Linked DNA regions of Homo sapiens: regions 2 and 3 are each reported to be linked to region 1. The links are microRNA targets in miRTarBase. Many come from high-throughput screens and were not tested one by one. Region 1 holds a microRNA gene; each other region holds the end of a gene's coding sequence.
Evidence for each region. The annotated mature microRNA hsa-miR-219a-1-3p reads AGAGUUGAGUCUGGACGUCCCG and lies in region 1 at 2,722-2,743, shown strand. An mRNA with a match to its seed (bases 2 to 7 or 8) in the 3' UTR can be bound and repressed. Matches are read on the target gene's strand: a 7mer-m8 pairs with bases 2 to 8, a 7mer-A1 pairs with bases 2 to 7 and ends in A, and an 8mer does both.

Region 1 (4,000 bases):
GGCTTTTTGTGGGGGGTTTTTGATGCGTAACCTCCCCCTCCCATAGGCCTGCTTTTCTCGCCCACCATCTGTCGTTGTGTCCTGTGCGGGCATCACCCAGGATGAGTTTCTGCTGCACATGTCTGAGGATGACTGGGACAAAGTCATAGCTGTCAACCTCAAGGTGGCGATCTCTGAACCTGCGACGTTTGGCCCCCTTAGCCTGGGGAGGGAGTTGGAGGAGGGCTGTCACCCCAGCTGATCTTTTCTCCCTTGTTACCCTTTCCCGCCAGGGCACCTTCCTAGTCACTCAGGCTGCAGCACAAGCCCTGGTGTCCAATGGTTGTCGTGGTTCCATCATCAACATCAGTAGCATCGTAGGAAAGGTCAGGTTGAGTTGGACGAGGTCAGCCAGCCAAGTGGTATAGAGAGGAGAACCCCTCCTTGAGACTCCTGACTCATTCCACATCTCTGACTCACCTATAGGTGGGGAACGTGGGGCAGACAAACTATGCAGCATCCAAGGCTGGAGTGATTGGGCTGACCCAGACCGCAGCCCGGGAGCTTGGACGGTTGGTCAGATGCTTGAGGGTGCTGGGGAGCACCTGGGGGGTCTGAGGGAGGTACCAGCATTCAGCCCTCTCCAGAATCGGCAGCCACTCTCCTTCCCACAGACATGGGATCCGCTGTAACTCTGTCCTCCCAGGGTTCATTGCAACACCCATGACACAGAAAGTGCCACAGAAAGTGGTGGACAAGGTAGGAGGCTGTGGGTGGAGGGCAGAATCATTCAGAGACTCAATCTCTCTGGGCTTCACAGAGAGAGAGAGAGAGAGAGAGAGAGAATACTGGGCACAGTTCCTGGCAAACATTAAATATTCAATGAATGTATGAGAAATGAAGACAAAAAAGGGTCACAGACTCAGTCTTCAAAAAAATCCATAAAAGAAGCTTTCACCCACATGAGTATTTCCTTACAGATTACTGAAATGATCCCGATGGGACACTTGGGGGACCCTGAGGGTGAGCACTGAATGTAGTGGGGTCCCTGGGAAGGGGGCCTGAATGAAGAGATCCCCAAAGTTTGGGGATTTTCTAGGGGACTGGTGGTTGGTGTCTGTGGAGAGGTTTGTGGGGAGGGATGTCTTTGGTGGGAGATTATGGCTGTTTTGGGTCTATGGGAGTGAGCAGAATTCTGCCCTCTCCCCACCATTCTCATAGATGTGGCAGATGTGGTCGCATTCTTGGCATCTGAAGATAGTGGATACATCACAGGGACCTCAGTGGAAGTCACTGGTATGAGGCCAGCATGGGGAGGGAGAGGGCAGAGAAGTAGAACCCAGACTATATGAGAAAGCAAGTAAGGGGAGTCTGGAGCCACTGGGAAGGGCAGAGGTTCCCAAGGCCAGGGACAGAAGTGGGTACCCCCTAGCCCATTTGTGTCTCCACCCATGCATCTGTCCAAATGTTTCTGCCCCTCCCAGGAGGTCTTTTCATGTAACTGCCTCAAGGACCCTGGACTCTGCTCACCCCCCCACCACTCTGCCTGGCCTCCTGCTGATGAGGACTCTAAGTTCCCAGGATACAAAAGGGGTGGCAGTGTATGGTTCAGGAATGCTGAATATGGGAAGCAGGGGTGCTTGTGACCCTAATAAATTCCAAGTCCTCTTCCCTGCCACCTCCGGCTCTTCTTGTGTCCAAGCCCTCAGACCCTTCCCCACCTCCCCCTCCTTTCCCTTTCCCGAAGGATTGTTCCCTTTCTCTGCCTGGTCTCCCAGGGCAACCCCCGCCGCCGGGTGTGAGAGGAAAGAGTATGTGTCACTGTGTATGCGTGACACTCCGGGTCTTTTTGAAGGGAGGGGTTCGTGCGTCACCCCTTTCCACTGGTTCTGCAGCACCAGTCCCCTCCCCCCAACTCCCTGGGTTCTTATGGTCCCCAAGGGTGATTTGTTCATGGCCCCATCTTGGTGTCCAGTCTGGCCTTGAAAGGGGGTCTTGGAACAGGTGGCCCTCCCCCACCCCTCTCCTTTCTCTGAGTCCCCCCCTCCCCTTTCTCTCCACCTTACAATAGCTGCAGCCGGCCTGGGGTCGGATGGGGGGGATTAGGGGAGGGGGCCAGGATTAGGGGAATGAACCAGCCGATGAAAGGGGCTGGAGAGAGCAGGAGGGAGGGGGCTGGGAAGAGGAGGAGGAAGGGGAGGGGGGTCTGCGCTAATCGACTCTGGCGCCCACATAAGGACTGGCCACGGACTGAAGGAGAGGACAGGGAAGTAGGGGGGAACTGGGGTGGGGGGCGAGGGCACCCACTGCTGCCTTGTCCCAGGGACAGGCCACCCCCTGGCAGCCGCAGCCCAAGTCCGGGAGCCTCAGCTCGGGCGGGGACAAGATGCCCATCAGGGTCTCTAACTGCCCCCCACCCCCTCGCCCTGTATCCCTCTCATTCCCTACACTCAATGGGGATCGCTCTGCCCCTTCCTCTTCTCTTTCCTCCCCATCCCCTTCGTTTACTCTAGAGTCCTCGAAGAGGCTTCTGCCCACTTCCCACTCCAGACATTCTGCCCCTGTGTACCCCACCCACACGCGCACCCCCCCTTCCCAATGGGAGCTCCATCTTGTGTATGTCCCTGTTTCCGCGTGGTGTCTCCATTCCCCCTTTCCTCCCGTGCGCCTCCCTCCCTTCCCCGCCCCGGGCCGCGGCTCCTGATTGTCCAAACGCAATTCTCGAGTCTATGGCTCCGGCCGAGAGTTGAGTCTGGACGTCCCGAGCCGCCGCCCCCAAACCTCGAGCGGGAGAGCGGGTCGGAGGGTCTAGGGAGAGCCAAAGCAGAGGGTGGAGGGAGTCCCCAGGGTGGTAAGGGGAATCCCGGGCACATCGGGACCTAGGTGTGTTCTCAGGACTAGAAGGCTAAAGCGGCAGATCTTTTGCAGCCTTTTCCCCCGGGATCCTGGAATGGGGGTTACGGAGAAGTGAGGGGGGTTGATCCCCAGAGTCGCCAGGGTACGCAGAGTGGGGGAGGTAGCCCTTTTCACGAGCCCTCTGTCCCCTCCTGGGGTCCCAGATATTCCAGGCCCCGGCCCCCCGGAGCTGAGGCCCCGCGTGGGGGCCTCTGGAAGGGAACCGAGGCTAAGGTTGTTGGCCGCGCGACGGTGCTGGGCCGGGGGCGGAGACCGTGGTTCCCTAAGTGGCGCAGAACTCCCGGGACGCAGGATCCTCACGCGGGACGAGCCCGTCCCGTGGGCGGGAGAACCGCGGCGTCCACGTCCCGTCCCACCCGCGCCGCGAATGGTGGGTGACGTCTCCGCCGGCGGGGGGAGCGGGTGTAGCGGAGGAGCAGGCGGAAGTGACGTAGGGCCCCAGCGCCCGGGCCATGGCGGCGGCGGTGGCGGGAGCTGCTGTCTGAGCAGCGGTTGCGGACCGAGCGAACTTGGCCCAGGAGCCCGGGCCTAGGGAGAGGCGCGGCGGCGGCGGGAGCGCGAACGGCTGGAGCTGGGTGAGGGGCAGTGCCGGCGCGGGGGCGGGAGCGGGGGCGGAGAGGGGCGCTTCTGGAGGGGCGGGGTCTACGCGAGGGGCGGCCCCCCTGACGCCCTCCTCCCCTTCCCCCCACCCCCAGCCTTCTTCGCCTTCTCCTCGGCTGTGGAGCCCTGGTGGGGGGTCTGCGCCCGGTCACCATGACGACGCCGGCGAATGCCCAGAATGCCAGCAAAACGTGGGAACTGAGTCTGTATGAGCTGCACCGGACCCCGCAGGTGACAGGCATTCTCCCTTTCAGGCTTACCCCCTCCCCCAAACCCTTATATCCACAGACCGCATCACACAGCTTCTTTTCCGTAATTTGCTCTATTCTGCCTTGCCTGGCCCTACCTTTGAATCACCTTAATCTTTCCAAAGCACTTTCGCATTTAGCTCATTTAATCCTCAAAACAGCCCTGCCAGAGAGGTGGAACAAGTATTATTATCTTCATTTGAAAGATCACAAACACAAAAATTACCTTCCCTGTTCCTCATTCAGTGTCATAAGTC
Region 2 (4,000 bases), not on the chromosome of region 1:
CGCTAACGCAGTAGTGTCAAACTTTGGTAAGGATCAGGTTCTCCCACCGCCTTGCCCCGCTCCCCAGCCTTTTTTTTTTTTTTTTTTTTTTTAGACAGGGTCTCACTCTGTACCCCAGGCTGAAGCACAGTGGCTCAATCTTGGCTCACTGCAGCCTCCGTCTTCCCGGTCCACGCGGTTCTCGTGCCTCAGCCTCCCAAGTACCCGGGGTTCGCGCCTGTAGTCCCAGCTACTCCGGGAGCCTGAGGCGAATCTCTTGAGCCCAGGGGGCAGAGGTTTTTGTGAGCCGAGATCGGCTGACTCCAGGCTGCACTCCAGCCTGGCGTACAGAGTGAGACCCTGTGTCCAAAAAAAAAAAAAGTAACATGAATAAAATCTACAGTTAGTCATTAATGTTATACCAATGCCAATTTCTTAGGTTTGATAAATATAACATGGTTATGTAAGGTTTTAACATTAGGGGAAGTAGAAAGGATATAGAGTAATGACTTTATGTAGTATCTTTGCAACTTGTCTGTTCATCTAAAATTATTGCAAAATCAAAAATTCTTTTAAAAAACCAACAACTTGAAAGTGGTTGCCTGTGAGGAGTAGGACCTGGGAAGGGGGCAAGAAACTGCTTGTACCAAGAATTGATTTTTTTAATAATGGGCATGTGTTCTGATTTAATTTGTTCAAACTTTTTTCCCCCCCTTTGGAACTGGGTGACATAGTTGTGATTACAATAATCAAACTAAGACTACATACAATATAAGGATTTTTAGATACCTAGTATACAAGAAACAGTCCCCAAAGAAACTAAACCAAAATGATCAACAGACGTTTAAAAGTAAATAAAGTTTGTTTATATTTCTCTATAGAAAAATAGATTGCACTCAAATGGGAGGATCTGAGATGTCACAACTAAACACGATAAAAATCTTTCTTCTTATATTCTGTGTGTGTTGGGTTTTTTAAAAGGATAAAAGGCATACTATCAAAATACTAAGAAACTATAAAAAAGTGAGTACTATCAATCCTCTTGAGAAGTTCAAACAGGTTGAGGGGGGTCAATGTTGAGAATTGAGATGAGATTCAGGAAAGGAAGAATGTAATGCAGGATGTACGTGTTACTCCATCTCTCTCTCTCTTTTTTTTTTTTTTCAGGTTCCTTCCATGTGAAGCCAGGCTGCGTAAGACTTGGGCCAGGGCCAGGAAAAGAGGGCAGTTAAAAATGTGAAATGACAGCCAGGGACAAGTGAGTTGTTAGTGTAACCTTCTCTCCGTCTTTAAAAAATCAACCTAAGAAATATAATGTATAATGTAGCATTGTTCTAGCCAAGCTCTCCCATAATTTCTGAGATAAAAATAAATCTCCCAATGCCCATAGGGCAAATATACTCTGGATTGGATTGACTGGGAACTAACACAAGTTTATCCTTTTGATTATTTTGTTTACACCAACAAAGCAAAGGCAAATATCCTTGCTTTTATATTGTCATTGACTCAACTGGCAGTAAAGTTGTGCCTAAGGATATTTTGCAGATTCCGTCACTTGCTATAAAAAACACACAACTAGCTAGGCGTGGTGGCTCACACCTGTAATCCCAGCACTTTGGGAGGCTGAGGTGGGCAGATCACCTGAGGTCACGAGTCTGAGACCAGCTTGACCAACATGGTGAAACCCCATCTCTACTAAAAATACAAAACTTAGCTGGGTGTGATGGCAGGCAACTGTAATCCCAGCTACTGGGGAGGCTGAGGCAGGAGAATCGGTTGAACCCGGGAGGCAGAGGTTGCAGTGAGTTGAGATCGCACCTTTGCACTCCAGCTTAGGCGACAGAGCAAGACTCTGTCTCTGCAAGTATACAATAAAATGCACACTTTTTCTCACGGGGCTCAGCATCCAGCTGTGTTTCAAAGGAATAATATGACCAATTTCAAAACATCTAGGGGAAGGTCTGGTAATAAGTGGAGTTATGGCCTATTTGTAAGGTGGCATGCTGAGGCTCTAGACTCAGGCAGGACAGGGTTCTTCATTCCAGCCTTCCTGTCCCCACTTTATAGCTTTGTGTCTTTGAATAAATTGTTTAACCTCTTTGAACCTCATAATGCTCATCTTCAAAAAGAAGATAGTATTCCATAATGCTGCTGTGAAGATTAAGTTAGATTGTGTATGTCAAGTACCTGATACATAGTTATCACCCAACTAACAATTAATAGTAATTGCTAATGTTTGTTGATAGTATATTATACACCTTTCTTCTTTGCCTCTTACATATATTAATTAATTGAACCCTCACAACAGTCTGGAGGTTGGTACTGTTATCATCATCATCATCCCCACTGCAGGGAAGGGGAAACTGAAGCTTGGAGAGTTTAATTTGCACAGTATATAAAGTGGCAGGGCTGAAAATCTATAGAGTCTTGTTCCAACATCCTCATTATGCCATGGGCAGAAACCACATGGGATCATACTATTTCTCTGACATAGATAAAGTCAATAGTAACTTTAATCGTACCACCAGATCTACTTCCTCTGACATATACCATCCTCCAGAGTCCAGGACTCAGAGTCTTTTCTCTAAAAGAACAATGGATAAAGTGACATGATTACAAACAGCTAATAAGCATGTAAACTATTTGTTAGTGTTATTAAAACAGCTAGACTGACAAACTCAACCAGGTTCCTATGACAAAAATACAGAATTTGAATCATAGGATCACACATGGAAACACTGCCAGTACTTAAGTTTCTCTTCATTCTCTGCTTTTCCAATTCCACATCTCTCCCTCTCTCTTCCTGCATTGTAAGTCTCAATCCTCTCCTCTTTACCAGCCCTAACTCTTCAGTACTGTTCCAATGTATTGGCCTCAAATTCTTTTCCAAATCCTGCCTTCCCCTATAGGAATCATGTACACGGTCTCAGGAATATTCTTCACATTCCTCCTTCAGCACCCACCCCAACATTTTCTGCTTCTGAAAGCCTTTGGGTACTTTTGTACTTCGATTGGTTGGAATGAAAAACAAGAAGGAGTTTTAAAAGCTTATTTAGGTCTATAACTATATTTTACATAACAAAATTCATACATGCAAGTAACAAAGTACACAAAATATAGGTGAAAGCAATGTTAAAGTGCCACACAAGTTTTAATAAATTAATGACTTTTTATTTGAAGCAGAAGAGGATGAACCGCCCTCCCCGCAAAAAGTCAAAAGACTTCAGTTATCCTGGGAAGAAAGTTCTAGCTTTGGAGGGAAAGTTCATCTCTGAAGGGCAGGATCATAGAAGACAGTCTAGAAGGCCCATAGCATAGCCCTGACAGTCACAGCTGACTTATCACGAAGGGCCATTCAATCAACCTCCTCAATGATGGGGCCGGTGCTGGGGTCCCCCTGGCGGGCTTGAGTGCCACAACTGCTGCCCCCAGGGACACCAGGCCCCCCATAGAGCCTGGAGAAGATGGGGCGACAGATTTGCTCCAGCTCCCTCTTCTGATGCTCATACTCCTCCTTCTCTGCCAGCTGGTTGTGCTCCAGCCAGGCAAGGACTTCCCGACACTTGTCTTGCATTTTGCGCCTGTCCTCTTCGGGAATCTTGTCCCTAAGGCTTTCCTCTTGCAAAGAACCTTTCACATGGAAGACATGGGCCTCCAGCGAGTTTTTGGCAGCCACTCTGTCCCTCTGGGCCTCATCCTCAGCCTTGTACTGCTCGGCTTCATGAACCATCCTCTCCACCTCCTCCTTGCTCAGCCGGCCCTTGTCATTGGTGATGGTGATCTTGTTAGCCTTACCTGTGCTCCTGTCAGTGGCTGTCACGCTCAGGATGCCATTAGCATCAATGTCAAAAGTCACCTCTATCTGGGGGACTCCACGTGGGGCAGGAGGGATGCCACTGAGTTCAAAACGCCCCAGCAGGTTGTTGTCCTTGGTCATGGCCCTCTCACCCTCATACACCTGGATGAAGACCCCAGGCTGGTTGTCCGAGTAGGTGGTGAAAGTCTGGGTCTGCTTGGTGGG
Region 3 (4,000 bases), not on the chromosome of region 1:
CACTGGTCATCGGGGCCCAAGGGCAGCCCTGTCCACCAAAACTAATTGCTGTGATTTGGAAACAAACTTTCCCACTTCCTTTCTGATTTCTTTCCCCACAGAGGTCACTCCCCAGAATGGTACAGCAAAGGCTTTGGACATCTGTGTGCAGCAGAAGTTGCCAGGATTAGAAACTCTTTCCAGCCCCTCATTGCTGAGGGCCCAGAAACTAAAATCTGAGTTTTGCCCAGTGTGACATCAAACTCAGGGAAGAGGAAGCTAAAGTGACGAGTGTGGCAGAGAGTGTGCATGTGAGAAAGCGAGAGAAAGAGGAACTGAAGGACGCGGTTAATGCCTAAAAATGGAAACGTTAAGAAGTTGGAATGTTGGAGATGCAAGAATTTCCAAGAACTTTCTTAGCCTTCCTGGAGATGGCTACATCCCTACTAATATAATTTTAAAATGAGAACTTTATATATATTACTTAAAATTAAATGGACTATTCCTTGTGCATTGCCTAATTTGCTATTTAAAGGCTTCTAAGAAGCGTATACCTAACTGTAAATAAATGTATGTATAGCATATGTACATATGTGTGTATATCTCCATCTTTACTGTATATATGTAAAATACCAATTTTATATAGAATTGTGTGTTTTGAAAATGACGGTGTCTGACTCAGTGAGTCCCTTCCTCACACAGTTCTTTCCAAGTGGCTCTGGGCCCCATCTCTCCACTGTCCTGTAAGCTGTGCAGAACCTGCTGCTAACACCAAGGTGTGAACATGCCCTGATGCCTAACCAAAGATGAGTTAACCAAAGGAAAATAACATTAAAGGAGACTTATGTGTTAACGCTTTGTTTCTGCTATTCAAAAACTGAGAGTGGAGATCTGGGATAAAGCAAGGAAATAATAATTACTCCTCCTTAAAGCAAATGGGGGGGTGAGAAGTCATTACCAAATTTAAAGCTAGATGAGGAGTTGCCACTGGGCCCAGTAAGATGGAATTTCAGTGAGATATGGACCACCGGAGTCAGCGAGAGTGACTGAAACAGAAGCGATACCTCTCGCTCCCATGCCCATCACTACAGACCCCAAGTCAAGATGAATATCATAGCCTTTACTTCTTCACAGCCAAAGGGAGCCCCTGTGTTGTCTCAAGTTTTTATAAATACATTTCATAATGTTATTAAATGTCATTCTATTTGACCAGTGGCCTATTTGGTCACAGTTAATTGGTGTTTTCTTATTGCACTGAATTCAACTCCAGACACCATACAAAGGGAGATGATGGCCATTCCGTTCAAATCCTAGATCGTTACAGCTTCAGGGAATTCATATTTTGTTATGTGTAGGATACTCTTAAAATGTAATTCATTAAACTTTTACAATCTGAAAGACAGGGTTTTTAACTAACATGAGACCAAAACTATGTTCTTTGATTAGTTTTAGATAGTATAATCGGGTTTATTAATTCTTCTGTGTTTCTTCACTAGCCAGTCCAAGCTACCTATGCATTTGACCCAACCTTATTTATTATTGTACAGATGAAGCGAATTGACTCCCTTTAGCCAACTGCTAATGGATCGAATGTGCTTTTTATTGTAATTCAACAGCTATAGAGAGAAAGATAACTTATTGTGTGTTTGATTTCAGGGAGAGAGATTTTCTTTGGTCATCCATAATAGAGATTGATAAGATTTAGCAACTGGTGTTGGAGAAAAAAAGAAAAGCAAATGAGTGTTTTCAGGTTTTTTTGCATTATATGCATTTATGTAATGTTTCTGTTATCAGCAATGTGCAATTATTTTATTGAGAGGAATAAAAAAGCTTTCTATGAGTTTGGTATGGTGCGAGGAAAATCTTACAGTTTGAATTATGACCTAGAAATTTTTCATTCCCATATCTACCTAAGAAGGAAGCAGTAAATCCATAATTTACCTTTTGGGCAATGCTTTGTGAGCAAAACAAAGTCACTTCTGCCATAACATCTTGAATTTAACCATATATGCCAGATTACTTTATATGCATCAACAAGATCACCAGTGAAGTTTAATCTAGCTAAACACTGGTCCTGCTCCTGAGATGGGATCCTATGTGTTTGGAAAACGTGATAGGCACACGAGGATGAGTGGCTTTGTATCGCCCAGAGAGGTGCTTGTCCAGATTTCACATGCACATGAATTGCCTGGGGATCTTGTGAAACTGCAGACTCTGCTCCAAGTAATCTGGGCTGGGCCTGAGATTCTGCATTTCTAAGGAGTCTCAGGGATGCCTATGCTGCTGGCCTAAAACCACACTCAGAAACGAGGACCTAGAAGATCCCTAAAACAGAATAAGAACAAATGTGATTGTATTTCTGATTCTCCCTCTCTTCGAATTATCTGACTTTTTTGTTTTTGTGCACATAGTAATCATATCACCGCTGCATAACAACACAGTGCATCTTTTTAAAACAAGGAAAAGGGAAAAAAAGGAGAAAAAACGATGCATCAAGCTTGTTTGTCAAATACCACAGTATTTTATTCATTGTTATCTTGCCAATGGAAATAAAGTATGATATTGCATTTAAATATTATATTTATACCTCATGTATATTTTTACCTCAATTGTTGATATCAATCATCAATTGTAAATAAATAATTGCCAAGGCAAATAAATTTATATATATTAAATATTTCCTATTTTCTATAAAATAGATGTTGATTTTCATGCTTCATCTTTAAATGGAAAATTTGCTTCATGAGGAAGATTTCTCCCAAGATAGCCTGCCATGACTTTGACTCCTTGGTACCATCTGTAGTCAATACTGTCTTCAAATACAAAGAAGTTGTTGTCAACAGACATTCACTATCAGGCTGGGTGCCTTAACCTGGATCTAAGGGATTAAAGTGATGGGTGGGGATTTTTTTTTCTTAAATTTCATTGTCCTTAAATCTAGAAGTTATAATTCATAATTTTTTTCATATTCATAATATTTTTATCAAAGGTTTAGTAAACTCTTTAGCTACATTTTATTTTTGTTAAGTGGACAAGAAATCAAGATATGATGAAATGACTTACAGCCGCACTACTAGACCATGAAAAGTAGCCACAAATGACTCTAAATCTCTTCCCTTCTACCCTTGAAATCTGAGCATCTCTTCTAAATATCAGCCCAGAGAGCCCTTAAGAAAGCCGGGGCTCTCAAACATTCTCAGGCACAGGCTTCCAAAGCCACAGAAGCCCAGAAGACTGTATGCCCCTACAAAAGTTGTCCCAACTCTGCTCTCTTATCTCATGCACACCTTCCCCTCTTACTTGCAAGTTTTGCTTTCATAGTAGGCAAAGGGGGAATTCAATGGCGCTTTTTCTCTTCTACATGAAGGAAAAGAATGTGATGGTCATTCTAGCAGCCGCAGGCTACAGATGTCCTGAGAGTATGGATCATATGAATTCAAAGGTGATTCTTGCTAATTACTCTGATCTCATCACCATATATGTATCAAAACATGCAGTGACTATGTACCCCACAAATATGTACAATTATTATTTGTCAACTAAAAGAACTTTGAAAAGGAAAGAAAAGTTTTTTACATTATTCCAAACACTCTTCATGAAATTCTTAGACATAAAATTGTTCCACCTGTGTCTTTTGATATTTGGTTACAGAAAAACTGGACATATGGTTCCTTCTCAGGAAGATAAATGTAAAGGTTTAAAACAGACCCCAACCAAATGGAGTGTCACATTCTGATACGAACGCAAAGTCAATGTGTGCTGACTGCACAAGCAGTGAATAAACACCTGACCTTGTGACACTGGAATGTTGCAAAGTCATGAAGTTTAAACAACTGATGATGTACAATTTTTGACATTCCATAGGCAGACTATATCCCTTGTAGTTTTTCTTAAAGACAGTGTTTACTTTCATTTTAATAATCCCACTCTTCAGCCTCCTAGATGTCACCTAGTTTATATCCTTCTGGTGCACAGCTGAGGCTCAAAATTCCCAGCAATATTGTATCTCTGCAGAAAACTT

Region 2: the mRNA of HSPA6 is a reported target of hsa-miR-219a-1-3p. The part of its 3' UTR that is shown has no 7-base or 8-base seed match.
Region 3: the mRNA of STARD13 is a reported target of hsa-miR-219a-1-3p. Seed matches in the 3' UTR shown: 7mer-m8 at 1,240-1,246.

The regions. Positions count from the first base shown.
Region 1 is chr6:33,205,175-33,209,174 of GRCh38, forward strand. MIR219A1 (microRNA 219a-1) reads left to right here and starts at 2,661; the gene lies at 2,661-2,770. It overlaps HSD17B8 (hydroxysteroid 17-beta dehydrogenase 8), which reads left to right. Exons shown (of 9, transcript NM_014234.5): 3 at 47-163; 4 at 273-365; 5 at 466-551; 6 at 654-738; 7 at 960-1,002; 8 at 1,201-1,275; 9 at 1,464-1,657. The coding sequence ends at 1,480. It overlaps RING1 (ring finger protein 1), which reads left to right and starts at 3,326. Exons shown (of 7, transcript NM_002931.4): 1 at 3,326-3,470; 2 at 3,591-3,726. The coding sequence starts at 3,649. RefSeq lists enhancers at 1-193, 194-1,074.
Region 2 is chr1:161,525,925-161,529,924 of GRCh38, reverse strand. It overlaps HSPA6 (heat shock protein family A (Hsp70) member 6), which reads right to left. Exons shown (of 1, transcript NM_002155.5): 1 at 3,031-4,000. The coding sequence ends at 3,335. Among named protein-coding and RNA genes, the nearest start is that of TRL-CAG1-6, 2.5 kb to the left of the region's middle.
Region 3 is chr13:33,101,812-33,105,811 of GRCh38, reverse strand. STARD13 (StAR related lipid transfer domain containing 13) reads left to right here. Exons shown (of 14, transcript NM_178006.4): 14 at 102-2,675. The coding sequence ends at 219. Among named protein-coding and RNA genes, the nearest start is that of KL, 87 kb to the right of the region's middle.